Regions from separate parts of the Homo sapiens genome. Here all the other regions are linked to region 2. The links come from fine-mapping of genetic effects on gene expression. A gene starts in region 2. Each other region holds a variant in brackets. All regions are shown on one strand. Distances are between the middles of the regions. Region 1 overlaps SLC9A7 (solute carrier family 9 member A7). Region 2 holds the start of SLC9A7 (solute carrier family 9 member A7). Region 3 overlaps SLC9A7 (solute carrier family 9 member A7).

What was found. PIP is the estimated chance that this variant, and not a neighbour inherited with it, causes the effect. A credible set is the group of variants that fine-mapping cannot tell apart.
Region 1: its variant is the best candidate, but not a certain one, in a credible set for the expression of SLC9A7 in lung (TOPMed, PIP 0.61).
Region 3: its variant is the best candidate, but not a certain one, in a credible set for the expression of SLC9A7 in blood mononuclear cells (TOPMed, PIP 0.53).

The regions. Positions count from the first base shown.
Region 1 is chrX:46,712,429-46,723,096 of GRCh38, reverse strand. All of the region lies in intron 1 of SLC9A7 (solute carrier family 9 member A7), which reads left to right. Among named protein-coding and RNA genes, the nearest start is that of SLC9A7, 41 kb to the left of the region's middle. RefSeq lists an enhancer at 8,853-8,952. The variant A/G (reference allele first, on the strand shown) is at 4,886.
Region 2 is chrX:46,753,374-46,764,041 of GRCh38, reverse strand. It overlaps SLC9A7 (solute carrier family 9 member A7), which reads left to right and starts at 4,924. Exons shown (of 17, transcript NM_001257291.2): 1 at 4,924-5,337. The coding sequence starts at 5,013. RefSeq lists silencers at 4,643-4,992, 5,013-5,152.
Region 3 is chrX:46,685,177-46,695,844 of GRCh38, reverse strand. The region is part of intron 1 of SLC9A7 (solute carrier family 9 member A7); the gene reads left to right. It also overlaps the pseudogene YBX1P8. Among named protein-coding and RNA genes, the nearest start is that of SLC9A7, 69 kb to the left of the region's middle. The variant T/G (reference allele first, on the strand shown) is at 4,718.

The sequences.
Region 1 (10,668 bases), 41 kb after region 2:
TGTAGCTTTTTCATCCTGATTTTCATTCCTTGCTACAAAGCAGTGATTTGGTTTCTAGGTCGGCATTGTAAGGAGCCTAATGCTTTGTCACAGTACTCCAGCTCCTCACACTGATGGCTGAACAGAGGCTGCTAAAATAGGTTGATCAAGTTGTGTTTTTCATTGTCATATTTTGCACCAAATGAAGTGTGACACATCCCACTCTGTGACAGAAACTGTGAGTGACAATTGGTTCCGTGTGGTGGCCTAAAATTACAGAACGTTACCTGCTGCTTACTAAGGAAGAATCTTCTGGAGGTTTTCCCTGTACCTCTGATTGGAGCCCACAATAGAACTTGTGTATGGCATCTAATAAATTGCAATCCCAGTGTGACAAAGACCTGTAGGCACAGAGAAGAAATAACTTGGTCACATAAAGTTTTGGAGTTCCCAAATCACTCATTTAATGTTATTTTTAAACATCCATCTCTCATTTGGTTACTTTCTTTAATAGTCCAATTCTTTATGTGTAATACAGAAATCAAATATAAATGGGATTGATAAAAGTCCTTCTTTGCCTCGTGGAATTTTAGTTTTTACAAATAACCTTAGAATAATTCAGGTAACTAAGGTATTTGGAGTAACAGTGCTTACTTGTACATGAAGAACTCAACTATCACTCTCTGTTCCCCATTTTTCTGCAAGTAACTCAATTAGCTAGATTAACAAACATTGTCACAGAAACAAAGTGTTTTTTTTAAAGCTATGGATCCTTGTGTTTATATTTTTAAAAAGCCATAAACAGGCATTTCTACCTTATTAAGAGGACTTAAACAGGTGTTTAAACACTAAGACAGTGATGATTTTAAAACATAATAAAACTCTAAGTTAAGGCTTTTGTTTTGAAACCCACATTCATAGCTACTTATATGTGGAACACCTTTGTATTTGGGGGCAACGTGCTATTAAGGCTGTTGTTGACCCTAGTACTCACTACTCGCCCTTACACACACACACACCCCCACACCCACACACACACCCACCAGAGAGAAACAGTGTTTTTTTAGAACCCAGGACCATCAAAATAGTTTTTTGACTTATCAAGCCTTGAACTGGAATAGGAAACCCACATTTGTTCTAGTGTTTATGTGTTTAATAGTTCATACCATGAAGTTATATGTTGATTGCAGATGTGGGAAGCAAAATGGAAAAAAATGCATCTTGCTGACAAACATCGCCGACTGCCTTCACTAACTGCACTTAGCACAATACGTAATCATCTTTTCTCTTTGTTTACTCATTTATGGGCTACCCCTCCCTACCTGCTCTAGACTGAAGTTGAGAAAGGCAAGGCCTTTGCTTGTCTTCCTCGAGATTGCTCAGATATTGTTTGCAAGAGAGTCCCCATAGCCTTTGGTGGGTTGGTGGCTGTGATAGGGAGGGTCTTTTGTCAACCCTGGGCCTTCACTTTGGAAGCTGTGCTGTGTTGCAATTAATTCTAATAAACCCATGCAGCATCTGAAGATAACCCCACAGGGAATTGAATTTTGAAGCAAACGTGTTTATTTCTTGGAAGCTTAATGGATGGATTGGAAAAAAAAAAAGAATCATTTGCTTCTAGCTTTGGAAGCCAGAGAAACCACAGGCTGAGGAGCATGCCCTTGTCCCTCAGTCTCCTATTAGCTTGCAGCTCTAATTTCTATCCAGGGTAATATGACCGAGGGGAACTATTTGCATCTTTGAAAATTCCACTCTTCTGCTGGCTTATAACAATAGAACAGTGCAAATGTATCTTGTGTGTTCTCTACCATTATGGATAATTACTAATGAAGTCTCTTTCTGGCAATTCTCATTAAGTGATTTAATTTTAGAAGTGGAAAGAACCATACCTATTGGAACACTTGAATCTCAACAGACTATTAAACTTTATTAAGAATAAGAATTATTCCCTGGAATTTTGTAAGATCACCTTAAATCAAATTATATTTTCAAAAAGGACCATAAAGATAATTGCAGTAAGAAAAAATGTTTTAAATCATTATTAATGTAGTTATATGTATAAGGACCAGAGGCGATCCTTTTGTGGGCATGCCGATTTGAAGTCCTTTGTTCAGCCTGTTTGTTCTTAAGTTTAGATTTTGTTGTACTGTGAGGCCTTACGTTTAACATCCACTCATGTGATGCTTTATCACTTTTTTGAGAGGTTTTATTCTGGAAATTCAGGATATAGTCTTGGCAGTCTAAAAACGTAGGTGGTTTTGCTTTGTTATATCATCTCAGTGATCTTCAGGAGTTATTTGGATGATCAGTTCCATCAGCTAGGGTCCCCTTCTTTTCTCTTCTCTGCCACGGCTGTGAGGGAGGTCTTGGAGGACAATAATGCCAGGTAGAGGAGGATGCAAGGTGTATGTGGGGAATTCTGAGGAGTTGAATATGAGTGTTTATGTGTAGGGGCAGATGGCAGTGGGAAGTGAAATTGGCAGGTGCCAGTGCTTTGTGGGCCTTGAATGCCATGTTAAGGAGCTTGGATTTTTTTTTTTCCCATGGATGATGAAGCTGCTGAATAATTTTAAGCAGGGTCATGGCGTGACTAGCCTCATTTGTGATTCAGAGAAATTAGTCTGGTGGCTGATGGAGAAGGAATGATTGGGGAATCAGGGGAGAAGCAGGGGGGATAGTTAAGAAACGACTGCAGAAAATCCAGTCAGGGAGCTTGAACCAGAGTAATGATAATAAGGAGAAGAGGGGGTGATCAGGAAAATACTTGAGAAGTAGAGTTGGCAGGAGTGGGAAAGGACAGGATATGGGTGTGATGAGGTGCTACTCAGTGGCACTAAGTTTTTATGCTTGAATCAAATAATTGCTCAAGTCCTAGAACCAAAGTTAGTTTCTGAGGAAAGTCTTGTTTGTGATTATAGAACTTCTCTTCAGCAGACAAGAATATGCAGGTCAAGATCTTTGATTTCTTTTTCATAACAAGTATCATTACAACCAACATACCTGGAAGATGTAGCCTATAGATCTTTTATGTTACCAGCTATTGAGGTCCTCAGTAATGACCTTAATCATGTTTGTTGTTCATCTTGTTCTTGTCAGAAGGCTGGCTGAAAATTTTGGTATTTGAGAGAGGAATGTTCTTAAGGAATATATTACTTACTAGTTTCTCAAAAAACAATTTAAGTCAAAACATCAGGAAATGACAGATTAGACCATGTTATTGTGCCCTTCAGCCTTTCACTCCTGGAATTGCCCTTATAGAACCAAACTAACTTTATGTCTTTAGTTTTCTCTTAGAGCTACTCATATATGGAATGCCTTCACATTTAGGAGAAAAATGTTATTAAGGCTATTGACCTTCGTGGCCCCCTCCCCCTAATTTCCACAAAACCCTGAGATAGTTTCTTCTTAGAGCACAAGACCAACAAAATATTTTTTTGAGTTATCAAACCTTAAGCTAGAGTAGGAAACCTATGTTTGTTCTAGTGTTTTCTATTTTGTTCTTGTCAGCAAGAAGCACAAAGTTTTAAGCTTATTTTCTATGGTTTTCCTCAAACAACTTTTAAAATTATTATTTTTGTTGTGCTCTTTTATTTATTTTATTTATTATGCTCATATATTAACTGGTTTTGTGTTTTTAGTTTAACCCATTTTAGTCAGTTGGATAAATTTTTTTTATTATACTTTAAGTTCTAGGGTACATGTGTACAATGTGCAGGTTTGTTACATATGTATACATGTGCCATGTTGGTGTGCCGCACCCATTAACTCGTCATTTACGTTAGGTGTATCTCCTAATGCTATCCCTTCCCCCTCCCCCCACCCCACGACAGGCCCCGGTGTGTGATGTTCCCCACCCTGTGTCCAAGTGTTCTCATTGTTCAATTCCCACCTATCAGTGAGAATATGCAGTGTTTGGTTTTCTGTCCTTGTGATAGTTTGCTCAGAATGATGGTTTCTAGCTTCATCCATGTCCCTACAAAGGATAGGAACTCATCCTTTTTATGGCTGCATAGTGTTCCATGGTGTATATGTGCCACATTTTCTTAATCCAGTCTATCATTGATGGACATTTGGGTTGGCTCCAAGTCTGCTATTGTGAATAGTGCCACAATAAACATATGTGTGCATGTGTCTTTATAGCAGCATGATTTATAATCCTTTGGGTATATACCCAGTAATGGGATGGCTGGGTCAAATGGTATATCTAGTTCTAGATCCTTGAGGAATCACCACACTGTCTTCCACAATGGTTGAACTAGTTTACAGTCCCACCAACAGTGTAAAAGTGTTCCTGTTTCTCCACATCCTCTCCAGCACCTGATGTTTCCTGACTTTTTAATGATCGCCATTCTAACTGGTGTGACATGGTATCTCATTGTGGTTTTGATTTGCATTTCTCTGATGGCCAGTGATGATGAGCATTTTTTCATGTGTCTGTTGGCTGCATAAATGTCTTCTTTTGAGAAGTGTCTGTTCATATCCTTCACCCACTTATTGATGGGGTTGTTTGATTTTTTCTTGTAAATTTGTTAAGTTCTTTGTAGATTCTGGATATTAGCCCTTTGTCAGATAGGTAGATTGTAAAAATCTTCTCCCATTCTGTAGGTTGCCTGTTCACTCTGATGGTGGTTTCTTTTGCTGTGCAGAAGCTCTTTAGTTTAATTAGATCCCATTTGTCAATTTTGGCTTTTGTTGCCATTGCTTTTGGTGTTTTAGACATGAAGTCCTTGCCCAGGCCTGTGTCCTGAATGGTATTGCCTAGGTTTTCTTCTAGGGTTTTAATGGTTTTAGGTCTAACATTTAAGTCTTTAATCCATCTTGAATTAATTTTTGTATAAGGTGTAAGGAAGGGATCCAGTTTCAGCTTTCTACATATGGCTAGCCAGTTTTCCCAGCACCATTTATT[A/G]AATAGGGAATCCTTTCCCCATTTCTTGTTTTCGTCAGGTTTGTCAAAGATCAGATGGTTGTGTATGTGTGGTATTATTTCTGAGGGCTCTGTTCTGTTCCATTGGTCTTTATCTCTGTTTTGGTACCAGTACCCTGCTGTTTTGGTTACTGTAGCTTTGTAGTATAGTTTGAAGTCAGGTAGCGTGATGCCTCCAGCTTTGTTCTTTTGGCTTAGGATTGTCTTGGCAATGTGGGCTCGTTTTTGGTTTCATATGAACTTTAAAGTAGTTTTTTCCAATTCTGTGAAGAAAGTCATTGGTAGCTTGATTGGGGGTGGCATTGAATCTATGAATTACCTTGGGCAGTATGGCCATTTTCATGATATTGATTCTTCCTATCCATGAGCATGGAATGTTCTTCCATTTGTTTGTGTCCTCTTTTATTTCATTGAGCAGTGGTTTGTAGTTCTCCTTTAAGAGGTCTTTCACAGCCCTTGAAAGTTGCAGTTGGATAAATATTTAAAGTATGTTTCTGAAATGAATAAAGATTGGGGCCAGGCATGGTGGCTCACACCTGTAATCCTAGCACTTTGGGAGGCTGAGATGGGTGGATCACTTGAGGTTAGGAGTTCGAGACCAGCCTTGCCAACATGATGAAGCCCCATCTCTACTAAAAATACAAAAATTAGCCAGGTACAGTGGCGCACATGTGTAATTCCAGCTTCTCAGGAGGCTGAGGCAGGAGAATCGCTTGAACCCCAGAGGTGGAGGTTGCAGTGAGCTGAGATTGTGCCACTGCACTCCAGCCTGGGCCACAGAGCAGACTGTGTCTCAAAAAAAAGATTTTGGATGACCCTACATCAGTATTTTTTGGGACATTTAAGAAGATGACTGCTCCTTGTGCAGTAATTTTCTCTTAAAAACTTCAAAACACTTTATTACACAAATACAAGAAAAATTAACACAAGTATCAGGGTGATTTTTGTGGTACAATGTGGCATTTCTAATCACCTGACCTTTGGTATAATTAGTATGTATAATGTATCTGTCCATCTTATAGAACTCAGAGCACCTTTTGAGTATTTTCCAGGAATATGTAACACAATTTCAACTTTGGTTTTTATGACATAGTTCTTGTCTGCAATGCTGATTACTTACTCAAGAATGGGACACCCCCTTCCCAATTATTTCACAATTTCTTTAGGAAAATGCGGTTATTCTGGTGGATGCGTGTTGCCATAACTCATGAGACCAGGTGTCCACAATGGAGAAGTAGGGCTAGGATTTTTTGTTTCATTTCTGTCCTGGGCAGCCTTTATCGTTTTGGTCAGAGTTCTGGCTTTATCCAGAAGCCAAGTGACTTCAGTACAAGGTGGTTTCCCCTTCCCCAAACAGCAGGGAACTAGAATCAGAAACAGGAAAAAATAAATAAATAAAAAGAAACACATTATGATCAAAATAGCTTCAAATAAGGTTTTAAAGCCACTTGGGTACTATTTGCCTATTGATATCAGAATCGTCCCTTCTTGTTTGGGTATAAATCAGTTAGATCTCCAATTTGCTAATGGTTACAATGGATATTTTAAACCAGAAGAGTCAGTACATTTATGATAGCCATAGAGTCTGCATGATTCTATATTTAAAGTGTTTTAGGGGGTGAGTGAGTGGGAATTTGAGAACAGACTTGGGCAAGGAAATTCCTTCCCCTCTGTGCTTTTGTAGCACCTGTGTCTGTTGCAGCATTTGTGCTGTGTGCTAGAGCTTCTGGTCTTACTGAAGAGGATCCTGCCTAAGTCGTCTCAGGGTTCATAGCATCCAGTGGCTGAATGTTTATTGAATTAAGGCAGGCAATAGGGATTCCTTTCTTGGTTTATCAATGTTTGTTTCTTCTCTTTTTAATAAAGAAACTGGCTGGTTTCTATTTGCGTGCTCAAAATAAGCATATCTTTACCAAGTCAGAGCCCTCTAAGGCCCTGCAAATTCTCACCTTACCACTTATCCCCTTAATGATATATCATGCATCTAGGTTTATGCATCTGAGCATTGGACTGGGATCTAGAAGTCTCAGGTCTGAGTCACTCCTTCAGTCTTCAGTACCCATCTTCACTTGAGCAGACCACTTAATATCTCTAGACTTCAACATCTTGATTTATAAAATAAGATTACTATTATAAGTCAGGGGCTGTCTATATGTGCACTGCCTGCCTTAAGGACTTTTGCCAGAAATAAAATTAAGTAATGTACAGATGTTCCTTGACTTATGATGGAGTTATGTCCTGATAAAGCCATCATAAGTTTAAAATATTGCAATTTGAAAATGCATTTAATGCACCTTACCTACCAAACATCATAGCTTAGCCCAGCTGACCGAAAATGTGCTCAGAACACTTACATTAGCCTGCAATTGGGCAATATCATCTAACACAATGCCTGTTTCATAATAAAGTGTTGAATAGCTCATAATTTATTGAATACCATACTGAAAGTGAAAACAGAATGGTTGTATGGATACTCAAAGTTCAGTTTCTACTGAATGTGTATCGCTTTTGCACCATCTTAAAGGGGAAAAATTGTAAGTCAATTCTAAGTCAGAGGGCATGTATAAGGCTTCTCAAGACTGAAAAATACACTCTGTGCGACATTTGTCATTTTCAACTAACCGAGAATGAGGGCACATTCGCAAAAATTTGATTAGATTCAGAATTTAACCTTATACCACTGGACTCATATTTTTGGGATCAGTGAATCATAATGTAGTTATTAACAATTTTGTGACCATTTCCAGGAACTAACTGTAACTGAGCCATTACAAAGAAAAAGCTGTTCAGTTATAGGGACCCAAAAATATACCAAATCAGTCAAGTGTTTATTGAATGCCTACTGTATGCCTGTTACTGTGCTATTCCACATGTGAAATAGAAAAGAAATCTTACCTATAGGTCTGATCCTCAAGGAATTTACAGTCTAGTTAGGGAGGGAATAATTTAAGAACTGGACTAATCTGTGATATAAATAAATACTTTAAAAATTCTTTAAAAATTATTTTTAGGATACTTATTGAGAGAAATGAGATATCAATGTGAGTAAGGAGCTTGGGTAGGGTCTTAAAGAGTTGAAATTAAACCTGGGAACATAATCCAAGTGGAAAGGAATTTTGTCAAGATGGAATAATTTAATCTAGCGCAATGTCTGATATATAGTACATGCTCAATAAGTATTAATTTGCTTGATGAATGAATCTCTTTCAACAAATTTATCTTCTAGTTTGCCAGTTCTCTCTTTACTGTGTCTAGTCTGCTGTTGAACTTGAAAATGAAATAAAAATGCTAAGGTCATGTTTTTCTTTTCCAGGATTTCTATTGGTTCTTTCTAAACTCACAATCCTCTACTCCACACTACACTCCTTAACCCTTTCCCTGCCTTATTTTTAGCCATAGCACCTACCGTATTCTAACATACCATGTAATCTACTTATTTTGTTTCTTATGTTTCTTCCCTTATTAGAAATATAACGAAGTCCAGAAAAGCAGGAATTTGTATTTGTTTCGTTCACTGACATATATCTCCAAACACTAGAACAGTGCCTGGGACATAGTAGGATCTCAAAAAATATTTGTCGGGGATCTCAAAAAATATTTGTCGGGGATCTCAAAAAATATATGTGTTGTCCATAAGTATGGAGGCAATAGTGAAACCTGCCAAATTAGATTGGGGTGGAGATGAGGTCCTTGTAGAGTCCAGTAGGAAATAAAATTTGGGGAGGGGCTTCATTATGGCCAGATTATATAGAGCATCCTGTGTTGAGGGGAGGTTTGGGGCTTCAACGTAGTAGGCATGTATATTATTTACAAAGCTGAGCCAAATATCCATAATTTACTTGTCATCTGGGAGACATCAGGAAATAGCAGAAAGAACTCTGGCTTTGGAATTGGAAGTATGCAAGTTGGAATCCTACTTCTACAGTTTACCAGCTATGTGGTCTTAGGGCAGTTACTTACTCTTGAAGATCCAGTTTTTTTTTTTAACTGTAAAGTGGTGTTAATAATCCCTACCTCATAAAGTTGTGGTGAAAATTAAGAGATAATATTGTAAGTAAAACCCCTAATACAAAGTGGGTGCCCAGTAAGTAGTTCTTAGACTACACTGACTGATTTGAAACTATTAGCATACTAAAATGTACTTTTTCTGTTTGGGGCACATTACTTAGAGTAGTAGGAAGAAGCAGAAAACATTGAGTATAGTATATTGAGGTAGAGTATTGTAACTGTGGTTTAGGAAAAATAACTACCAACTGTGAGTAAAAATGAAAAGGAAGATACTATATTTGGGTGTTTTACAGTCACGAAAAAAAAAAACCCACAGAAATAACTAGTATCTTTTCACTTCTCCAAAACGTTTTGAAACCTTGAGTTAATTAAGAAGGGAGAGGAAAATCCCCTAATAATACTAGAGTCACTAATAGTGTGGTCTCTGAAAGTACCGAACCACAGGGAAGTCACCGGGTTCTGGAGGAGATCAGCTTTCCTGGAGTGGTCCAGTCCTCATGGATATTCTCTTCTGGGTAGGACCTGCATGTTGACATGAACCTAGGGCACTAACTTGACCCTCCGCAGAAAAAACTTTCAATGTTAAGTCCTCTGCTTGCTAAAGGTCACCCAAGAATATTTCTCCTGGAGAAGCCTTGTGCATTTTCTTTTCTTTTCTTTTGTCTTTTTTTTTTAATTTTTTTTGAGATGGAGTTGTACTCTTGTTGCCCAGGCTGGAGTGCAATGGTGTGATCTCAGCCCACTGCAACCTCCACCTCCCGGGTTCAAGCGATTCTTCTGGCTCAGCCTCCCAAGTAGCTGGGATTACAGGCGCCCGCCACCATGCCCAGCTAGTTTTTTGTATTTTTAGTAGAGACAGGGTTTCACCATGTTGGCCAGGCTGGTCTTGAACTCCTGAGCTCAGATGATCCACCCGCCTCAGGCTCCCAAAGTGCTGGGATTACAGGCATGAGCCACCATGCCCAGCCTGCCTTGTGCATTTTCTATATAACTGGTTGTTAAAGATGTTATCCTTTTTTGCTAATTGACCCATGGATAAGGGGCCATCTGACAGCTTTGAGAATTTAGGATTAAGCAAACATTTATTTCTCTTAACTGGTTATTCCCTCTTATCAGATTATGAGAATTAAATAGCACACAATGCTTCCTTTTTGTTTCAGTTATCAAGAAACTCAGAGCACCATGTAATGCTTGATTACAATAACAAAAAGTCTAGGAGGACCATAAATTTACTTCCTCCTTGTATGCTATAGTTCAGTACTGTCGTTTTCTATTTTAAGTGGCTTGCTGTGTAGAGCATCTTAAAGGCTTTACAAAATAGCCTGAGTATACCTAATTTGGCATTTGACTAATTTAACATTTCCCCAGATGTGACTCAAACATTTTGTAAATGTAGTGAATTTAAAAGACCCAGGTGTCTAGCAGTAGGGACATGGTTTAATAAACTGTGGCATATTAATACACTGCATTTAGAATTTTTATCTTAAATTCTAAAGCAAATCTGTCACTGAGCCCTTATACAAGACTCAGTGCACAATGTATAACTGAACAGCAGTGAACATGAATGAATTTATGTTTCAACGTGAGTAACTGATATGGTTTGGATATTATTTGTCCCCTCCAAATCTCATGTTGAAATGTGACCTCTCATGTTGGAGGTGGGCCTGGTTGGAGGTGTTTTGATTAATGGGGGTGGATCCCTCATAAATGGCTTGGTGCCATCCCTGCCACTAATGAGTGAGTTCTTGATCTGTTAG
Region 2 (10,668 bases):
TTTCAGCACATTAAAAATGCTGTGCATGTCTTTATGACCTTCTTGGTTTCTGATGAGAAATCCGTAGTCATCTGAATTGTTGTTACCCTGTATGTAATATTTCATTTTTATCTTTCTGCTTTAAACATATTTTTTTGTTTTTCTTTTCAGCAGTTTGAATATAATGTGTCTGTGCTTTGATTCTTTGGGCTTATCCTGCTTGGGTTTTGCTGAGGTTCTTCAATCTGCAGGCTTGTGTCTTTTGCTTTATCTGGAATGTTTTCAGTTATTATATTTTCACATCTTTTTTTCTGTACCACACTGTTTCTCTTCTCCTTCTGTAACTCTAAAGACACAAATGTTAGATATTTTATTATCTCCTATAGGTCTTTGTGGCTCTATTTATTTTTCAGTTTTTCCTCTCTGCTATTCAGGTTGGATAATTTCTATTGATCTATTTTCATATTTACTGACTCTTTCATCTCTATTCTGCTATTGCATCCATCCAATTTTAAAATTCCAGCTATTGTATTCTTCACTTATAAAATTTTTTTTTTTTTTTTTGAGATGGAGTGTCACTCTGTCACCCAGGCTGGAGCGCAGTGGTGCGATCTCAGTTCACTGCAAACTCCACCTCCCAGGTTCAAGTTATTCTCCTGCCTCAGCCTCCCAGTAGCTGGGATTACAGGCACATGCCACCATGCCCAGTGAATTTCTGTATTTTTAGTAGAGATGGGGTTTCACCATGTTGGCCAGGCTGGTCTGGAACTCCTGACCTTGTGATCTACCCGCTTTGGCTTCCCAAAGTGCTGGGATTACAGGTGTGAGCCACTGTGCCCAGCCTAAAATTTCAATTTGGTTCTTCTTTTATCTTTTACTCCTGTGCTGAGCCTTTTATCCTTACATTCATTTCAAGATTATTTGTCCTTACTTGTTGGAGCATCATTATAATAGCTGCTTTAAAGTCTTTTTCAGATAATTCCAACATTGGTGTCACCTCAGCAGTGGTGTCTGTTGTTTGCCTTTTCCCACCCAAGTTAAGATTTTCATGGTTCTTCAGGTATTGAATAATTTTGGGTTGTATCCTGGACATTTTGAATATTATGTTATAGGACTTTGTATCTTGTTTTAATACTATGGGGAAATATTCATATTTTTGTTTTAGTTTGTAATAGACATGCTTGGGTTTAGATCACAAGTTCTGACATGCCTTTTGTGGATAGTGGCTCCAAAGTCAATTCAGTTTTCAAAAGTTTGTAATGCTATTCAGATCTGTCCTACATGTGTTTTATCCAGTGGCTAGTCTAGGGCTTGGGTGGTGGTCTGCCTCTTAGTTCAGTTATCACAGTCTTTGGTATGCTGTTTAGGATCAGATCCATGTGCAGGTTGGGGTGAACCTAGGAGTTCATAAAAACTTTATGAGGACCTTTCCCAAGGTCCTCTCCTCTCTACTGTCTCCTTGGTACTTTGTAATGCCTTGGAGTTCCCCTTTTAATCAATTGGCAAGAAATCTAGACTATTTAATTTATTTAAAGACAGGGTCTCGCTCTGTCGCCCAGGCTGGAGTACAGTGGTGTGATCATAGCTCACTGTAGCCTCGAACTCCTGAGCTCAAGTGAGCCTCCCACCTTAGCCTCTTGAGTAGCCAAGACTACAGGCAAGCACTACAGTGCCCAGCTAATTTTATTTTTAAATGTTTCATAGAGACAGGGTCTTGCTACATTGCCCAGGCTGTTCTCCAACTCCTGGCCTCAACAAATCCACTCACCTCAGCCTCCCAAAATGTTGGGATTACAGGGGTGAGCCACTGTGCCTGTCCAGAAATCTGGGTCTTTATTTAATCCTCTCTGTTATGTATTTCCTGAAACTTTGCCCATGTCTTGGGCCAAGCATCAGGACAGAGAGAGTGAAAAAATATATATCATTGAGGTTTTGGCCCCACTGTCTTGGGACCAGAGCTACTTCAAACAGAGAGGAAGGTTCTCCCCTCCCTTAGCATTTTTTGGGTGCTTGAAGGTATTGCTGTCTCCATTGTCACTGTTGACTGAGGTGCCACAGTGGGATTGCTTATTGGCTAAAATGTAAGAGAATGGAGAAAAGAAAAAAAATGGCACATTTCTCCTACTTTCTCTGAATATTAGGAGACCAATTTTCTGCTTTTCCTGGAGCTCTCTCTGTCCATGTTGATGCTCCCTTCCGGGTGTTAAGCTGCCTTGAGTCCAGTCTAGTGGAGACTGGAGGAAAAAAATGGTAAACTCACCGCCAGTTCAGTTTTACTTCAAATTCTGTTGTTTTTCCTCAGTTTATGTGGTACAATTTACTTTCCAGAGTCCTCAAATAGTTGCTGCATGCATTCTGTTCACATTTTATAGCTGTATTCAGTAGCAGGTAATGGGTTTAGTGTGATTATTCTGTGTTAACTGAAATCAGAACTCCTGTATTATATAGGTTAGTTTTCACACATAAATATGTAGAGATAATGGAGTGTTTTCTTTGGTGTGTATTTGTGAATGGTTGGGACTAGTCTTTTCATACTCTACCCAAGGGAACTACTTTACATAATAAATACTCTTCTGGTTATCTATTGCTGTGGAAGAAACCACCCTCAAACTTAGTAGCTTAAAATAACACCAATCATTTTATTATGCTACAGTTGCAGATGTTGGTTAGGTTCAGCGACATGGTTCTTGCTTGGGGCCTCTCATATGTCTACAGTAAGATGGTGGCTGGGAATGAATTGATTTGAAGACTCATTCATTCACATGTGTGGCATTTGGGCTGGGAACACTCAAAAAGTTGGGTCTCCTGTGGCATCTACCTCTATTGCTACATGGTCTCTCTACATGGTTTCTTCAGTATGTCAGCTTCCAGGTAGCTAGATTTCTTTGTCTGTTTGTTTGTTTTTTTGTTTTTGGAGGCAGGGTCTCACTCTGTCACTCAGGCTGGAGTGCAGTGGTGCAATCTTGGCTCACTGCAACCTCTGCCTCCCAGGTTCAAGTGATTCTCGTGCCACCACCTCCCAAGTAGCTGGGATTACAGGCACACACCACCACACCCGGCTAATTTTTGTATTTTTAGTGGAGACAGGGTTTTGCCATGTTGGTCAGGCTGGTCTTGAACTCCTGACCTCAGGTGATCCGCCCGCCTTGGCCTCCCAAAGTGCTGGGATTACAGGCGTGAGCCACCGTGCCCAGCCTAGCTAGAGTGGAAAGTGACAGAATGAAACAGGCAGGAGCTAGATTACCTTTTATGACCTAGCCTCACAAATCACATAATCTCCATTACCACATTATATTCTTTGAGGGAGTCACAAAGGTCCACTGAGGTTCAAGGGGAGGGAACATAGATGCCCCTTCTTGATGGGGGATGGTAAGGTTCTGGGATTGGAAATATGATTGTGGCCATCTTTTTAAAAAATACAATCCGCCACAAATACTAAGAAGTCTGTACTTTTAAGGTAGCTCCTGAGTTGCCCTTTTCTAAAGAGAGAAATTCTGTCCTTGAGTACTGGGCACCCAAAGGGGCATAATATTATGACCAACACAGTGCCCATCCAGGTTTTAAGTATTTGCAATTTTATTGGAAACCTGTGTGGAACTTCAAGGTATACGGATGTTTGCAGGGGCTGAGTGACTGCCTAGAGGAGTTGGGAAAGGGGCTAGCTAAAATGTAGATGAAGAGATTTCCCTGCTTTAAAGAAACCACTAAACAGCTTTGGCAGAGTGCTCACCTACAGGGGAACCAGGAAGGCTGCAGTACTCCAAAGAGTTTTCTTACCTAATGCTACCTCTACCCTATTATTTCATTTGGTTAAGCATCACCTTCTTCAATGAATCCTCTTAAAAATGCAAACTCCCCTGGGAGCGAAAACATGGGCAGTTTTGGTAGAGATTTCAGAGTGGTTCAATAAACACATGAGTACAGTGCTAAGCACTGGGAACTCAGTGATTAATCTGATCTTGTTTCTTCCTTGACCAGAGGAGCAAGGTGGATTGAAGATTCTAGTTTTCCTGAGAATTTGTTCCAAGAGGCTTCATCCTTCAGAGTCCACGCCATAATTTTGTTCAGAGCTGGGTTTGGTCTTAAGAGTCATTAAAAGACTCTCTGAGCTACCAGGTGAGCAACATAAAAGAAAGGGTCATCAGGGTAACCCCCACCCCCCACCACCACCTTAGGACCAGCTACTGCTCATCTACCAGGAATGGCAAGCGTTCAGTTCCTTCTGGTTCAACCCTATTCCCCAAGGGGATTAGTAGCACAGCGCAGACGAAGTCTATTCCCTCAAGTGAGGAAGGAGATACTTCAATGCCCTCCCCCGATTCCAACTCCTTATCAGTCCTCACATTTGAGTCTGATGAGAACAGAGGTTTGAATGAAACCTAGCAGATTCTGGGGCTGGAAGGGCAACCTGAGAGATGAGGAAAGAGAGGTGTAGGGGCTAACGTGGCTTCGGGGCTGCTCGGTTCACTGACAGCCCCCACTTTACTGGGCCCAGGGCGGCTGCACACTGGCCTGAGATTAAACACTTCGCCGTGGCGCCAGAGACGGGACTCGAGACCGCAAGGCTAGTCACTCCAAGCCGATGCTCCCGCTAGGCGCCGGCGACCTCTGGCGTCCCCTTTCGGAAGTGCGGCGGCGGCTGCCCATGAACTGGCCCCACGACCCCAGACTGCCTGGGCAGGTGCGCCAGGACGGGGTGAGAAGCGCAGAGAGGCAAGCAGCCGGCGGCCGGCCCGCAGACCCGAGGGCAACACCCGGCCCCGCCTGGGTGGCTCGGTTGGCCCGCGGGGCGGTGCGGCGTGGCGCGGCCGGGGGACGAACAGGTGCGCGGGCGGGGGGCGGTGCTTGGGGATCCTGCGCACTGCGCGCGCCCCTCCCCCGCGCGGCCCCGGGCGCAGCCCCGGCCCGGCGCGAGTAGGAGGAGGAGCTGCAGCGGCCACGGCCACTCCGGCAGGTCCGCGGTGCTGCCAGAACCCGCCGACGGCGCGGGCTGCTGGTCCCCGCTCGGAGGAGGCGCGGGGGGCCCCGGGACCATGGAGCCTGGTGACGCGGCGCGCCCTGGCTCGGGTCGGGCTACCGGGGCGCCGCCGCCGCGGCTGCTGCTGCTGCCGCTGCTGCTGGGTTGGGGGCTGCGAGTCGCGGCCGCGGCCTCGGCCTCCTCCTCTGGGGCGGCGGCGGAGGACAGCAGCGCCATGGAGGAGCTCGCTACTGAGAAGGAGGCGGAGGAGAGCCACCGGCAAGACAGCGTGAGCCTGCTCACCTTCATCCTGCTGCTCACGCTCACCATCCTCACCATCTGGCTCTTCAAGCACCGCCGGGTGCGCTTTCTGCACGAGACCGGGCTGGCCATGATCTATGGTGAGCACCCCTGTTACACCCCCCGCCCTCCACACCCCTCGGCCGCCGCGCTCCTCCTGGCGCCGCGCGGTGCTCCCCCTTCACTTGCCAACGTGTTCCGTTTCTTTTACGTTTCCCGCTGCGACGGTGTTGGTTCCCAAGGTCAACTGTCTGCATTTTCTGGCTCTCTGCTACCGTTAAAAACAATTCCACCCCTATTCCACGTTTCTGCATTGGGAACCCAGGAAAATGAAAGGGACAGAGGTGGTCCGGTTCCGTCTGCCCCGTTCGGTCTCTGTTGCAAACCTCTTACCCACCACCTCCCGCTCCAGTTGAGCTCGATAGGGTGTGTGTGCCTGCGTGGTGGCTGGAGGTGGGTGGCTTCCCAGGTGACTGCATCACCTCAGGGGACAGGCCACAGTAGGGAGTGGGGACGAAGTCTGAAAGTGTCTTTGCTTGGGTATGGGTTAGTGGGGCCTCTTGGACGCCACATCCATGGTCAGCCTGGGTGGGTACCCACTCCTGAGGTCCACATTCCCAGGTCTCTTAATGATAAAGTCAGAGCATGAAGTGTGGTGAAAGGTGAGCAGTGGTCCAGGACCCAGAGTGGGTGGCACCACCATGTCAGGCCTGGACGAGGAGACAGGCACGCCTCCTGCTCTTATGTCCCGAGTGGAAAGTTATACCCAGTTACTTGCTTTCTCAAACGAAGAGGAGCTTTTGTATTCCTAAGACGGTAACAGGGAGTGAGTTTGAGATACATTTCCGAATGTATGAAGGGGAAAAGTCGTGGTTTTAATTCCGGAGTCAGCCATCTTTTGTTGTTAGGGGTGGGCTGATGCTACCATCCTTTTCTAGATTTAATGGTACACAGTGTGTTACATGCACAGTGGTCAGTACAAATCTCCCTTTATTACATGGATGTCAGCCATAATCTGAGTCATCCCTCTTCCTCTTCTGTGCCCCCTGCCTCCCCCCTCGCCCTGCCCATGACTCCAAAGTGGAGTCAGGTATTCTCTTTTTGAATGTAATTCAGTGGTGTTAAAGCCCCTGAATTGGCATCCTCACACGAAATAGACGAGCCACTTCATGATTGTTCCCAACGGGGAAAATTTTATTTTATCACATATACTGAGGGATTTCTTTATTCAGTTTCCATCCAGGTGCCCTGATAGAGAATGGAAAGCAGAAACCTTAACCTTTAATGTGAAAATTACCCTTGGTTCTGGGCCTTGCTTCTCATGTTTCTTGATTAGTTGTTGACAGCCGGGGCTCATGGCCACCAGGCCCTCGCAGCCAAACCGTGTAAGGGGCAAGCGCTGTTAAGAGCCCTCCAGTTTTGATGAAGTAGTGACCTACACAGATCTTGAAACAGGACCAGGTCTAAAACCGAGTTTGGTGATTGCGAATTATAGGTCTCAACACAGACTTTGGCCTCCATCCCTGACCGTTGTTGAGCTCTGTGGTTTGTGTCAGTTGGTGATAAATGACTGATGCCAGGCCTGCAGGTAAGCTGGGAGGTTTCCTGAGAAGACAGACAGGGGGGAATTGAAGCACGTGGTCATTGCAGGTGATTGACTCCAAGCCATGATGCAAATGAAAATTGCCTTTATATAGATAACCGTGAAAATATTTTTATTTAATAGGCCCTAGACCCAGTTTCTTAAAGGACAATGTGAAATAGGAGGTAGATTTGTCAGATTCGTAAACACATGCTCAAGGGATGGAAAATAAATGGGGATTTGAAAATATATTTTCTGGAGAGTACTCCGTGTTCTGAGGAGTTCAATCACCTTTATCTTAAGGCTTAAAGACAACAGTGGAATTTTCCTTTGCTGATACGTACTTTTAAAACTCACCTCCATCTTTCAGCCATTTGGTTGTGCTACAGTGTACTGTTTTATTTTGTGAACAATCAAGTTACAAATCTAGTGTAACTGATGGCTGTTCAGAAAAGGCAATATCATCTCAGCATTCCTGTGTAATTTTGTTCTATATCTTTGAGTATTAGTGTTTCTTTAAATGTATAAAGAAATTTAGTTTGTCAATATGTGATGTCTCAGGTTATGCCAAATATTAATATTTTAAGGACTGTCTGTAATTGTGAGAAAACATTTCTTCTTTCTCTCAGGTATGTTTGGTCTTCTACTGCAAGGTCCCCCTAATCTGAATTCTAATGTCATGTGATTAGCTAATTATTCATAGTATACTGAAGACTATTGGGATGGGGATTTTAAACTGATCTTAAAATTCAGTTTGCAAATCTTTTAAAAAATTGTCTGCATTTAAGATGTACAACATGATGTTTTGATAAACACAATGAAATGATTACTACTGTCAAGCAAATCTTTGAACACAAGTAAATCCAGTAAAGATTTTTCAAGACTTCTCTTTTTTAATAGTAAAAAATAAAATTTGATTTCTCTATATCAATAGAGGAAGTGAGTAATTGTCCTCTTGGCTCTGAATAAGGAACGACAAAAAGACCTAAGGAAACATTTTTAAAGTATCCACTGTGTGCTGGGAACCCAACTTAATTTCTGGAGGCAAACAATTTAACTTTTAAATGTTTATGAATGAAAGAGTTCAACTGTGAATTTCAAAACTCTTTATTTTGAGAAAAAGTTTTAAAATGTAATTTCTGCCACCTTTTTGTGTTTAAGTGACACTTTAATCTGAGAAGAACAGCGTTTACATTTAAGATAAATTTATATATATATAAATTTATATATTTGTTGGTATAGTCGTAAAATATCTCTGGAAGGACATGCAATAGATGAGTAACATTGGTTTCCTTGGGGGAGAGGAACTAGATGGCTGTGAAATAGGAGTGGGAGGGAGAGGTCACCATATAACCTTGTATGCTTCTTGGTCTTGTAATAGCTTTTTTTTTTTTTTTTTTCCAAGACGGAGTCTCACTCTGTCGCCCAGGCTTGAATGCAGTAGCGCAATCTCGGCTCACTGCAAACTCCACCTCCCGGATTCAAGCAATTCTTCATCTCAGCCTCCTGAGTAGCTGGGATTACAGGCGCCCGCCACCATGCCCGGCTAAATTTTGTATTTTTAGTAGAGATTGGGTTTCACCATCTTGGCCAGGCTGGTCTTGAACTCCTGACCTCCACCCACCTCAGCCTCCCAAAGTGCTGGGATTACAGGTGTGAGCCACCGCACCCGGCTGTAATAGCATTTTAACGTGCTCCTCAAATCACTCAATTTGACGCCTACTTCTCCCTATTTAAATCACATTATGTTATCAATTTTCTTCATGACTTTTCAATTCTTAATTGTGCCCTTGGAGCTTTTCTGAGCCCTGTGTCTGGGATGGAGATAAAATGGGGAAAGGGGAAGAGATTTCTCTCTCTCTCTCCCTCCCTCCCTCCCTCTCTCACCCTCTCTTTCCCACTCGCTCTCTCCCTCTTTTTCCTTCCCTTTATTCCATTATCCTCAGAGAGTAGTCAATGTTACATTAGCAGTGATGTGCACAAATAGACCCCATAATAAGTGCTTGCTTGGATGCAGAGGACCTAAGGAAAATAAAAGACACACTGTGAATGCTTAACGTTTAAACAGAAAGGAACTCCCCCACCCACCAAAGGACACTTATAAGCATTCCTCCCTGACAGGCCAGGGCAGCTACAAGGGAAGGTAGCTACAGACCTAACTCCCCAGGAAGGTTGAAAGCAGCCCCCAGACCCCACCACTGGAGCTGCAAGGCAGCGGGGCCAGGCACTTGCCTGCCACCAGTCTAACCTGTTTTGTCAGGCCAGGGAGCTCCCAGCTGTCTGTCTCTGTTATGTGATTAAGTGCCATCCTAAAGTTACTGGGCCCTACATGTCTTTGCAGCAGAAATAGAAAGTGTTTAGGGCAGGGAAAGTTGGTATAAACAGACTGTGCCAGTTCATTGTGGTTCTCTCTCAGATGTACGGTAGTTCCACTTCCCCCATAATGTTTTTGTGACAACTGATATGGATCCAAAATAATCTGACTCTGCCATGCTAACCCACCACCTGCTTCTCGCTTCCTCCTCCTCCACCACCCCATCACCTTTCCAAAAATATGTTGATCAGCCCCTCTAGGTTCTATGGGTTGTGGGCTCACTGTTGCTGTGGTGGAGCTGGATTGCTAAGCACAGCCTGAGAGTGGGCTCATAGGCAGAGTCTGAAGGGGAAAAAGATGACTCTTTGCGGTAACATGAAATTAACATTTGAACCTGTAAGCAAACATTTTGGAACCATCTCCTTCCTGGTTAATCAGGAGTCCCCCCTTTTAAGAGCCCCTCACTTTGGCCCCAGTTGGGAGCAGCTTCTGTATGGTCTCACTTTGGTACCAGATAACCCTGGGTTCAAATGCTGGCCCTGTTGCTTATAAAACTGTATAGCATTGGATAAACTCTCTGAGCCTTAGCTTCCTCTTTTGGAAAATGGAGATTATGTTACCTCACAGAATTGCTGTGTTATTGAGATATTCTAAAGGGTCAAGTGCAGTGTCTGACACTTAAGCACTTGGTAAATATTAGTTCCCATTCTCATTTTAGGCTTTGTGATTCTTTGGCAGGCTTTACTACTTGAGGTTTGTTCAGTAGTGGACTGTTGTAATTTTAAAATGCATTAGGACACAGTTAGTGGAAGTGAGGAAAATTGTATATTTTGGGGTGAGCTTTTGGTTAATACCTAGAAAAAAATTTACAACACACCTACCCTTTTAAAATTTTATTTATTATTATTATTATTATTATTATTTGAGACAGAGTCTCACTCTGTCGCCCAGGCTGGAGTGCAGTGGTGCGATCTCTGCTCACTGCAAGCTCCGCCTCCTGGGTTCATGCCATTCTCCTGCCTCAGCCTCCAGAGTAGCTGGGACTACAGGCACCCGCCACCATGCCCGGCTAATTCCTTTTTGTATTTTTAGTAGAGACGGGGTTTCACCATGTTAGCCAGGATGGTCTCAGTCTCCTGACCTTGTGATCCGCCCGCCTCAGCCTCCCAAAATGCTGGGATTACAGGCATGAGCCACCGTGCCCGGCCCACACCTACTCTTTTATTCAGCATTTTCAATTCTTGGACTTTCAGAAATCTATCAGAAATACTTGTGCTAGCATGTTGCAATATATAGACAGCAATATTTGTTGCAGTGGACATAAGTTGCAGAACTCATCAGATGAGACTGGTTAAATTGTAGCACATTCCCATTAAGGAATACTATGCAGCGATAAAAAGAGGTGTTTTGAGATGTCCTTTTAAGGCTACTGTCCACACATAATGTTGTGGAAAAAAAGCAAGGCACAGAACATCATGTATAGTATTATTCTATTTGATCTTTCAATAACTATATACTGTATATACACAAACATGA
Region 3 (10,668 bases), 68 kb after region 2:
AGTGTAGTTCAGCCTCTATCTGATTGCCAGCGAGCAAATATGTTTTGAGTACCTAGTATGCCAGGCACTTCCATGTGCTAAGGATACAGAGGGGAATTCAACAGATCCCCCACACCCCACCTTCCATGGAGCTGACAGTTGGACCAGCTAGGCAGACCAACTGTCCAGATGTTTATAACAAAGTGTGGCATGTTTACAAAAGAGGAAGCACATAGTGCAGTGGGACTACAAAGCCTTGGAACCTAGCCTAGCTTAGGGAGTCAGGGAGGGCCTCTTGGAGGAGGTGGCATTTAGGCTGTGTTTCCCATTGGAAAAAATAATAGTAAAGTTGCATTTAGATATACCACCTATATAGTTAACCTGCTATCACTTCCTGAGAGTCATTGTATATTCCCCTCTGTTTCTTCCAGGGTCCTGAAGGATTTACGTTTGTGTTACATATTTGATCTGCATATAGGTATTCATGCGTGTAGCCCTTGCACTACAGAATATATTGTCTGCTGGTCTTACATCAGTTCAGTTCTCACTTTGAGAGATACTTATTGGAAAAGTATGGAACACTAGTACTGGAAAAGGATCGCACATGCGATCTCTAGATTCATTTTCTCATTTGCTCTTTTTTTAAAAAAAAACTTTATTGACATATAATTTACATATCATAAAATGCACTCATGTATACAATTTCAGTGATTTTTGGTAAAATCACAAAGTTGTGTGACCATGATAATTCAGTTTCAGAATATCTTAATCATCCCAATAGGATCCTTCATGCCTTAGCCCCTGGCCACCATGAATCTACTTTCCATCTCTGTAGATATACCTGTCCTAGACACTTCATAGAAATGGAATTATACAATATGTGGCATTTTTGTGACTGGCTTTCACTGAGCATGTATGCTTAGTGTAATATCTTTTAGGTTCATCCATGTTGTAGCATGTATCAAGTTCGTTCCTTTTTCTACTGTATGGATAGACCACATTTTGTTTATCCATTCATCAGTTGATGGACATTTGAGTTGTTTTCATTTTTTTGCTGTTATGAATAATGCTAGTATGAACATTTGTCTGCAAATCTTTGTGTGGACATCTGTTTTCAATTCTAGTCTAGGGTAGAGTGTAAATTGCTGAGTTGTATGGTAAGTTTGTTTTTAACTTTTTAAGAAACTGCAAACTGTTTTCCAAAGTGGCTGCACAATTATACATTCCCACCAGCAGCGTATGAGGGTTAGGTTTGCCACATGCTCTCCAACATATGTTAGTATCTGTATTTCTGATAATTGCCATTCTAGTGGGCATGAAATGGTATTTCATTATGGTTTTAATCTGCATTTCCTGAATGATCTATAATGTTGACCATCTTTTCGTGTGCTTATTAGTCATTCATAATTTCTTTTGGTGAAATGTCTATTCTAATCTTTTGCCCATTTTAAAATTGAATTATCTTATTATGGAGTTATATATTTATATATCCTAGATACAAGTTCTTTATCAAATATGTGTCTGCAGTTTTTTCCTCGTCATTTTCTTAATAATGTCTTTTTTTCTCTCTTTTTTTAAGAGACAGGTTCTTGCTCTGTCACACAGGCTGGAGTGCAGTGGTGTGATCATAGCTCATTGTAACCTCAAACTTCTGGGCTCAAGTGGTCCTCCCACCTCAGTCTTCTTTTTTTTTAATTTTGACTTTTATTTTAGATACAGAAGATACATGTGTAGGTTTGTTACATGAGTATATTGCACCCAGGTAGTGAGCATAGTACACAATAGGTAGTTTTTCAACCCACTCCCCATCTTTCCACCCAAGTAGTCCATCATATCTATTATTCTCATGTTTATGTCTGTATGTGTTCAGCATTTATTTCCCACTTATAAGTGGGAAAATGTGGTATTTGTTTTTCTGTTCCTGCCTTAATTCGCTTAGGATAATGGCCTCCAGCTCCATCCACGTTGCAATTTTTTTGTAGAGATGAGGTCTCACTGTGTTGCCCAGGCTGGTCTTGAACTCCTGGCCTCAAGTGATCCTCCCACCTTGGCTTCCCAAATAATGTCTTTTGAAGCACAAAAGTTTTGAATTTTGATAAAATTTAAATTATCAATTTTTTATTTTATTGTTTGTGCTTTTCATATCATATCAGTGAAAAATTTACCTAACCTAGGAACTCACAGATTTTTTCCCCTAGGCTTTTTTTTTCCTAAAGGTTGTATAATTTTAACCTCATAGATTTAGGTCTTTGACCCATTTTGAACTAATTTTTATATATATAGTATTAATTTTTATATATAGTAGGAGGTCAGAGTCTAAGTTCATCTTTATGCATGTAGATATCCAATTGTCCCAGCACCATTTGTTGAAAAGATTGTCCTTTCCTCAATTGAATTGCATTGTCATCTTTATCGAAAATCAATTAACCATAAACACACCATTTTATTTTTGGACTCTCAGTTTTGCTCCATTGAGCTATGTGTCTATCCTTATACCACTACCACACTATCTTTGTAGTGAGTTTTGAAATGTGGAAGTGAAATTCACCCAGCTTTGTTATTTTTCAAGGTAATTTGCGATCTTCTGGTGGTTTTGCATTTCCATGTATGTTTTAGGCTCAGCTTGTCAATTTCTGCCAAAAAATTTGCTGGAATTTTGATAGGAATTGCATTAAGTCTGTAGAGCAATATGGGGAGCATTGTCATGTTAGCTATATTGAGTCTTCTAATTTATGAATATGGGATGTTTCTCCATTTATTTGGGTCATTTCATTTTTCTCAGCAGTGTTTTGTAATTTTCAGTGTATAAATCTTACATTTTGGTCATTCATTTTTCACAGAACGAGTATTTGTACAATTTGGATTTTTTCATACAACTGGCACTTAGAAAATTCTGGTGAGGTGGGAATCCAGAGCTTGGAGAAGTATGGCTTCTCAGTGGTCATAATAAAAGGGGCCTGAGACCAGTGGGCAGAAGCTACAGGGAGACAAACTTTGACTCTGTTTAGAGAGCCAGTGTTGTCCTGCTGCAAAAAGGATAGACCTGGAAGATGGTGAGCCCCCTCACTGTCTGTATTTAAACAAGAGCTGTATAATATCATGGTAAGAAGCTTAGAGACCATTCGTTCTCATTTCTGAGCATGCATTGAAATCAGATATGGAACTTCTTTAAATCAAAATACCTCAAACACCCCCTAAACCTACAGGATGAGAAGTTACAGGAGAGACTCTAGACACCTGTACTTTAATTGGTTCCCCAAGATGACTCTGAATACCACAGTATAAGACCTGTCTGCTGTTGAACAGAGTGTTTTATAAATGTGATGGATAATTGGACTTGTATTGTCCCTTCCAACATTGGCATTTTGTAGTGGCATGAGATCTGGATAAAATGAGTGTGGGGCAACTGTAGACATGCCTTAGGTATGTAGGAAACACAAGCAGAGGGATTTTCCTTGGACAAGCAGGCAGGACCTGTGGTTCTGTTTGTGGTGGGCTTCATATCTCATTCGGATGGTTCAGTGCCAATGCTGAATCTCAAGCAATTCTGAAAAAAATCTTCCTAATGGTGCCATGCAGGTCATCTGATTTTAAGTGACCTGAATGCATTAGAGAAATTGAGCAATAAAATCAGTGGCTTGTGTCTCACACTTCAGGTTTAGCCCATTATATGGCAGATACTTATTTCCCATTTTAATGGGAATTTTTAATAGTAAGGTTGCTAGCTCCATGAAACCTGTCTTCCTTGCAGTCTTTTAATTCTTATTAAAAGAAAACTGATAGAGTAAGGTTGCTTACTTTTTGGCCTGTTTACCAATCTACAGTGCCACAAAGATTGATGATGATACATTATATGATGATACTGTTTTATTACTATCATTATGTGTTTTGCTAAATCCCTGGGAGAGTCTTCTAAATAAATCAGCATTTATACAAGGACAATTATGCCTACCCTTGAAATTTTCCTCTGGTGAAAACCCTATATAACTGTAAAATTGCTGTAGAAGTGCTCATTTTACAGGCACCTGGGAAGCTGCTAGAGGGACAAATAAGGAAGTTATGGTGTCCTGTGCCTTTGCTGGACAGGACAACTTCAAAAACAGTGAGTTCTGTAGCTACTTTTCTAGAGATATTTTTTCTATTTTGCTCCAGCCCACATATCACTTGTCTTCCTAACCTCCATCCCCAATATGCACTATTTTTATAGCAAGAGATGATGCAAAGGAAAATAACTAATTCTAAAGGGCTCATAAAAAGCAGCATTTGTACAGCTTTTGACAGTTTATAAAGGGTTTTGACATATGCATGTTCTCACTACATTCTTACAACAGCCCAATTTTAGAAATGAGCAGCAGAGAGGTACTTTGTGCTGGATTGTAGCTAGGTGGAAAGTGAAGTTACCTACCCAGGTCTTCTGTCACTGAATCTACCAAATTCTTCTCCATTATGCTTCCTCATTACTACCAGACAAAATAAATATATCAGGAAAAGTTGGTAAATAGCAACAAATAATGCCTTAGAATTAATTTGCTACAATATACAAAAGCAAACATTTTCAGTAAATTTTTGCTTCTTATACATTTATAAAACATGGCAAGATAACAAGCATGTAGGAATTCTGTTATTCATGCTCATGGGAGGACTTCTGGAATGACTGTGTGAGAGCTCAATAAATCTTCTTCCCAAAACACAGCAATAAAATTGGACAAAGTTGTCAAAAATAACTATTTAGTCTCTG[T/G]AAATTGATGAAAGGTCAATTAAATTGAGGAACATTTATTAAAGAAAATCTACTGAATCTTGGTAAGAATAGTAGGTGTCTATGGCATTTAAGATTGCTCCCATCCCTGCCAGATCCATGTTCTGGATGATTTATCACAGGCAGGTGGAATAGACTGCAGTGACCACCAGCTCCCATTTCTCCCACCAGCTCCAGAAATAAACCATTGTGTTTATGGTCAGTTGATTTTCAGCAAAGGTACCAAGAGAATTCACTGGAGAAAAGACCGTATTTTTAACAAATGGTGCTGGAGCAATTAGATACCCGTATGCAAAAGGATGAATTTGGACCTTAACCTGACACCATACACACTAAGTTAACTCAGATTGTATCAGAGATCTAAATGTAAGCATCAAGGCTATAAAACACTTAAAAACATAAGAAATATTCATAACTTTGGGTTAGACAAGTGTTTTTTAGATATGATACCAGAGCCACAAGCAATAAAATAAAATGGATAAATTAGATTTAATCTATCAGAGTAAAAAAATTTTGCTCTGCCAAAGACAATGTCAAGAGGCTGGAAAGACAAGCTACAGTCTGGTAGAAAATATTTGCAAATCATATATCTGACAAAGGACTTGTATCTAGAATATATAAGGAACCCAAAATGTATAAGGGAACCCAGAATATATAAGGAACCCATAAGAAAACAACCCAGTTTTTAAAATGGGCAAATAACTTGAAGAAACATTTCTCTGAAGAGGGTATTAGGATTGCCAATAAGTACACAAAAAGATATTCAACATCATTAGCCATTAGGGAAATGCAAATTTAAAGTATGGTGAAATACCACTACACACCTATTACAATAGAATGGCTAAAATGAGAGATATTGGCAATACCAAATGTGGATGAGGATGTGGAGCAACTAGAACCCTCATATGATGCTGTAGGGGACAGTGGTTAAAAAATGGTATAGTTGGGCATTTGGGTTGGTTCCAAGTCTTTGCTATTGTAAATAGTGCTGCAGTAAACATACGTGTGCATGTGTCCTTATGGTAGAATGATTTATAATCCTTTGGGTATATACCCAGTAATGGGATTGCTGGGTCAAATGGTATTTCTTTGATAGAATGGATAAAGAAAATGTGGCACATATATACAATGGAATACTATGCAGCTATAAAAAAGAATGAGTTCATGTCCTTTGCAAGGACATGGATGAAGCTGGAAGCCATCATTCTCAGCAGACTAACACAGGAACAGAAAACCAAATACCGCATGTTCTCATTCGTAAGTGGGAGTTGAACAATGAGAACACATGGACAGAAGGAGGGGAACATCACACACCAGGGCCTGTCAGGGGGTAGGGGGAAAGGGGAGGGAGAGCATTAAGACAAATATCTAATGCATGCGGGGCTTAACACCTAGATGATGTGTTGATAGGTGCAGCAAGCCACCATGGCACATGTATACCTATGTAACAAACCTGCACGTTCTGCACATGTATCCCAGAACTTAAACAAAAAAAAAAAGAACTGAAAAAAAAAAAAGGCATAATTACTTTGAGAAATGGCTTGCAGTTTCTCATAAAGTTAAAGATATGCTGCACATATGACCGAGCAGTCCCACTCTGGGTATTTACCTTAGAGAAATGAAAACATGTTCATATAAAAACTTGTTCATGGGTGTTCATGGCAGCTTTATTTGTGCCAGCCAAAAGCTGGAAAGAAGCCAGATATCCCTCAGTAGGTGAGTGTTTATACAATGGAATACAACTTAGCAGTAAAATGAGATGAAGTGTTAATTCACACAATACTTGGATGAACCTCAAAGGTGTTACGCTGAGTGAGAGAAGCCAGTCTCAAAAGGTTACATACTGCATGGTTCCATGTATTTAACCTTGCAAAGACAAAACTGTATTAATGGAAAAAACAAAACAAAACAAAACAAAACAAAAAGCAGTGGTTGCTGGGGTTAATATGTAGGATGAAGGTATCAGTGTGAAGAGATAGTACAAGAGAGTTTTGGGGGAGTGGTAGAACTATTTGGTATCCTTGTTGCAGTGGTGCTTACATGAATCTATATGTGTGTTAAAATTCATAGAACTGTACACCAAAAGAAAAAATAATTCATTGTATAACAATAAAGCAAAAAAAAAATTTTAAGACAACATCAGAGAAATTTTAAAAAAGAAAGGAAAAATATAGGTCATAGATTTGGGGAAAATATTTTCAAATTGTATTTTCAATAAGGGACTTCTATCCAGAAAACAAAAAGTTTGGGTTTTTTTTTTACCATTCAATAAGAGAACCTGAGTTAAAATATGGCAAGAGATTTGAATGACGAGACATTTCACCAAAGAAGATATACAATGGCCTATAAGCACATAAAAAGATGCTCAGCATCTTTAGGCATTAGGGAAATGCACATTAAAACTACAATGAGATACCTCTGAACATTCTCTAAAACAGGTATGATCATAAGACAATAACAAGTGCTGCTGTGCCTGTAAACAAACTATAACTCTTTTTTTTTTTTTTTTTTTGAGGCGGAGTTTCGCTCTTGTTGCCCAGGCTAGAGTGCAATGGCACGATCTTGGCTCACCGTAACCTCCACCTCCCAGGTTCAAGCGATTCTCCTGCCTCAGCCTCCTGAGTAGCTAGGATTACAGGCATGTGCCACAACGTCCAGCTAATTTTGTATTTTTAGTAGAGATGGGGTTTCTCCATGTTGGTCAGGCTGGTCTCGAGCTCCTGATCTCAGGTGATCTGCCCGCCTCGGCCTCCCAAAGTGCTGGGATTACAGGTGTGAGCCACTGCGCCCGGCCAACAAACTGTAACTCTCATGTGTTGCTGGCGAGAATGTAAAACAATACATTTTTCCCAATGTAGTTTGGCAGTTTCTAAAATATTAAACATAGATTTATCATATGACACAGCAGTTCCACTCCTAGGTATCTACTCTAGGGAAATGAAAACATGTCCACAGACTTGTATGCAAATGTTCATAGCAGCGTTATTCACATTAACAAAAAAGGGAAACAACTCAAATATTTATTGATTAGTTAATGGACAAATAAAATATGATACACTGGTACAGTGGAATACTATTTGGCAATAAAAAGGAATGAAGTACTGATACATGCCTCCAACATAGATAAACCTTGAAAACATACTAAGTGAAAGAAGCCAGACACAAGAGGCTACATATTGTATGACACCATTTATATTAAAAGTCCAGAAACGGCAAATCTATAGTACAGAAGGTAGATTAGTAGTTGCCTGGGAATTGGAGTAGGAAGCAGGAAGTGACTGCAGATGGAAATGTTTCAAAATCAGATTGCAGTGATGATTGTGCAACTCTGTGAATATACTAAAAATCATTGAATAGTATACTCTAAAATGGGTGAATCTTATGGTATGTAAATTGTACCTTAATAAAATTGCTTTTTAGTTTCACCACATATTCAAAACAAGGAACAAAAATATTTTGAATGAATTCTCCTTGAAACTAATATATCAACGAATAACACAGCTGCATAAGTAGCAGAACAAGTAGAACAAGGTATTGAAAGGGCTGTAATATTCACTCTCAAAATCCAAGTCATGTAAATTACCCCCAAACCTGAAAAGTCATTGTCAACTGCTGGAATCCATTGGATTCTCTTTATTCATTGAATTAGAAATAGTTATCACCATCTTCAAACACTGTGTAACTGGATGCAAAATGAGATACTTTCTTTTCTTGGAATTTCAGATGAAGCTTTAAAACTCATAACAACCCCTACTGTGCTGTAAAAAACTCCACAGTGGTGGCCACACTGATCAGGTGATCACCTACCCTCAGTACCTTACATAAGAAAAAATGAGGTCTCACTAAAGAACAGTGCACCCACGTACCTGTTCTCCTCCGTAACAAAGGCTTATTAACATAGACATTTAAATATTGTAGCTGATGGATGGCTGTCTAGAATTAAACCTCACCATGTCCACTTGTTCAGCTCTCCTCCCAACAGCCTCAGCCACAAAAGGAAAACTGGCACCAGACCAATGGGAGCTGGTTTCTTTAATGAACCCGTGGGATTTTTAAACCACACGTTGCTCTCATGATTATATTCCTTCATCATACTACCAAGTTTTGGATAAGCACATACATAAACTATATATATGCAAGTACAGTTGTGAAGTGAGTTTTTTTCCTATCCACAAGTTGAAACAGTCTCGAATTTTTGCCCCTTTGGAGTTTACCATCTTGTTTTAAGCCACATCAAATGTCAAAGGAATTTCATCCATATTTGCTTTCTGTAAAAGTTCAAAACAATTCTTTCATTAGTAATGTACCTACGAAATCAGTGATTGTCTCTTTATCAGCTGACATTTTATGTGCTATTTTCCCTGGCCCAAACACACAGTAGGTTATTTCTCTTTGTGATCTAGAACACTAGGCTGTTAATCTGGTCAAATCATTAGTGCTTCTGTTGCTCTCCATCATTTTTTATGAATACTGAACTTTCTGAAGCTTTCAAAAAAAAATCTAGTGCATGTTTTAATTCCTTGTAGCTATGACCACTTCACAGTTCCCTGTCAGGATGTCTCCGAGATCCAGCAGATGAAAATATGCTGTTCATGTTTTCTCCAAGTCTTTATCATTTTCTCACCTAATTACCTTCCTGCAGTTCTAATATCCTATTCTTTCTTCAACTGGAAAACGCCAAATATGAACTTAATATCATGCCATGGAATATAGTGGTAATAAATATGAATCTAAAATGTCTGGGGAGGTACCCAAACTCTACCTTGAGTTAGTGGTGTACCCTGTGGCTTGGTATATTTTTGGTCAAAACTGTCAGGATGGTGTTAACCTTACATCTCTGCTGTGGTGTTTTGTGTTGCCATATTTTAACCACAAGGGGGCAGCATCACCACCTTCGCTGTCTCCCTTCCATCTTTAATATGAGCGCATTGGGCCCAGGGTAGAGAAGAAAAGGTTTTACAACTTTAAAAAGCAATATTCGTCATCTGGTGATGATTGTAAATATGATAGTGATGATTACTGGAAGAGAGTTGAAGAATGTTTCCTCTAATTGAGGAATTTGTCTACAAATATAAACCCTCTCTTGTTAGAGTAGTATTCATGAGGACCTTTGCTAGTATGCTTCAGTCTTTCCATTAGCTCTGCTAATAATGAGGTTAGAAAAGTCAAGAAACAATGAGTTACATGAAGCAGGTTCTGATTTTTAGGAGAAAGATAGTCTGTAAATGACTTGTTTTGGCTTCCTGATGACAATTTAAGTTAAATCATGTTCCAAATAGCTGCCTCCAGATGCTGCAGATCATCCTGTATTATGATGAGTGTTGAAGGGCTAGAGTCGTCTTTGCCATGTAAAACTTCGTCAGAAAATAACTGTCTAACCAGGGAGTGAAATAAGACTAAAAAGCATCACAGAGTTCCATCTAGAGTGGAGAGAGAGCCCCCCAGAGCCCTGAACAGCTCCACTGCCACCAATCTCATTACCATCACACCTGCAAAGGGGCCACTGCTGCCACAGCTGGCCCCAGTCACCATTACTGTGACCGCAAACATGAGCAGTGAGGCTGAGACACTTGGCATGACACCATGGGCAGAGGCAGAGGGAGTGGCAGCCTGCAAACAGGACAAGAAGGTTATCCCAGTGAAAGTTTGGGAACAGTAAGATGGTTCAGTGTAAGAAATATATATGGTTTCGTCCACAGGAATGACACTGGGTGAGATGTATTTGTATGCCAGATTGTCATAAAGAAGAATAACCCCCAGGAAACACCCTGGCAGTACAGGGGATGGAGAAGCTGTGGAGTTCGATGTTGAAGGAGAAAACGGTACACAGGCAGCAAAGATTGCAGGCCCTGGTGGAGTTCCAGTGCCAGGCAGTACAGATGCAGTAGACTGAAGCCATTATAGATGTTATCTGCATCATGGGGGTCTTCCAC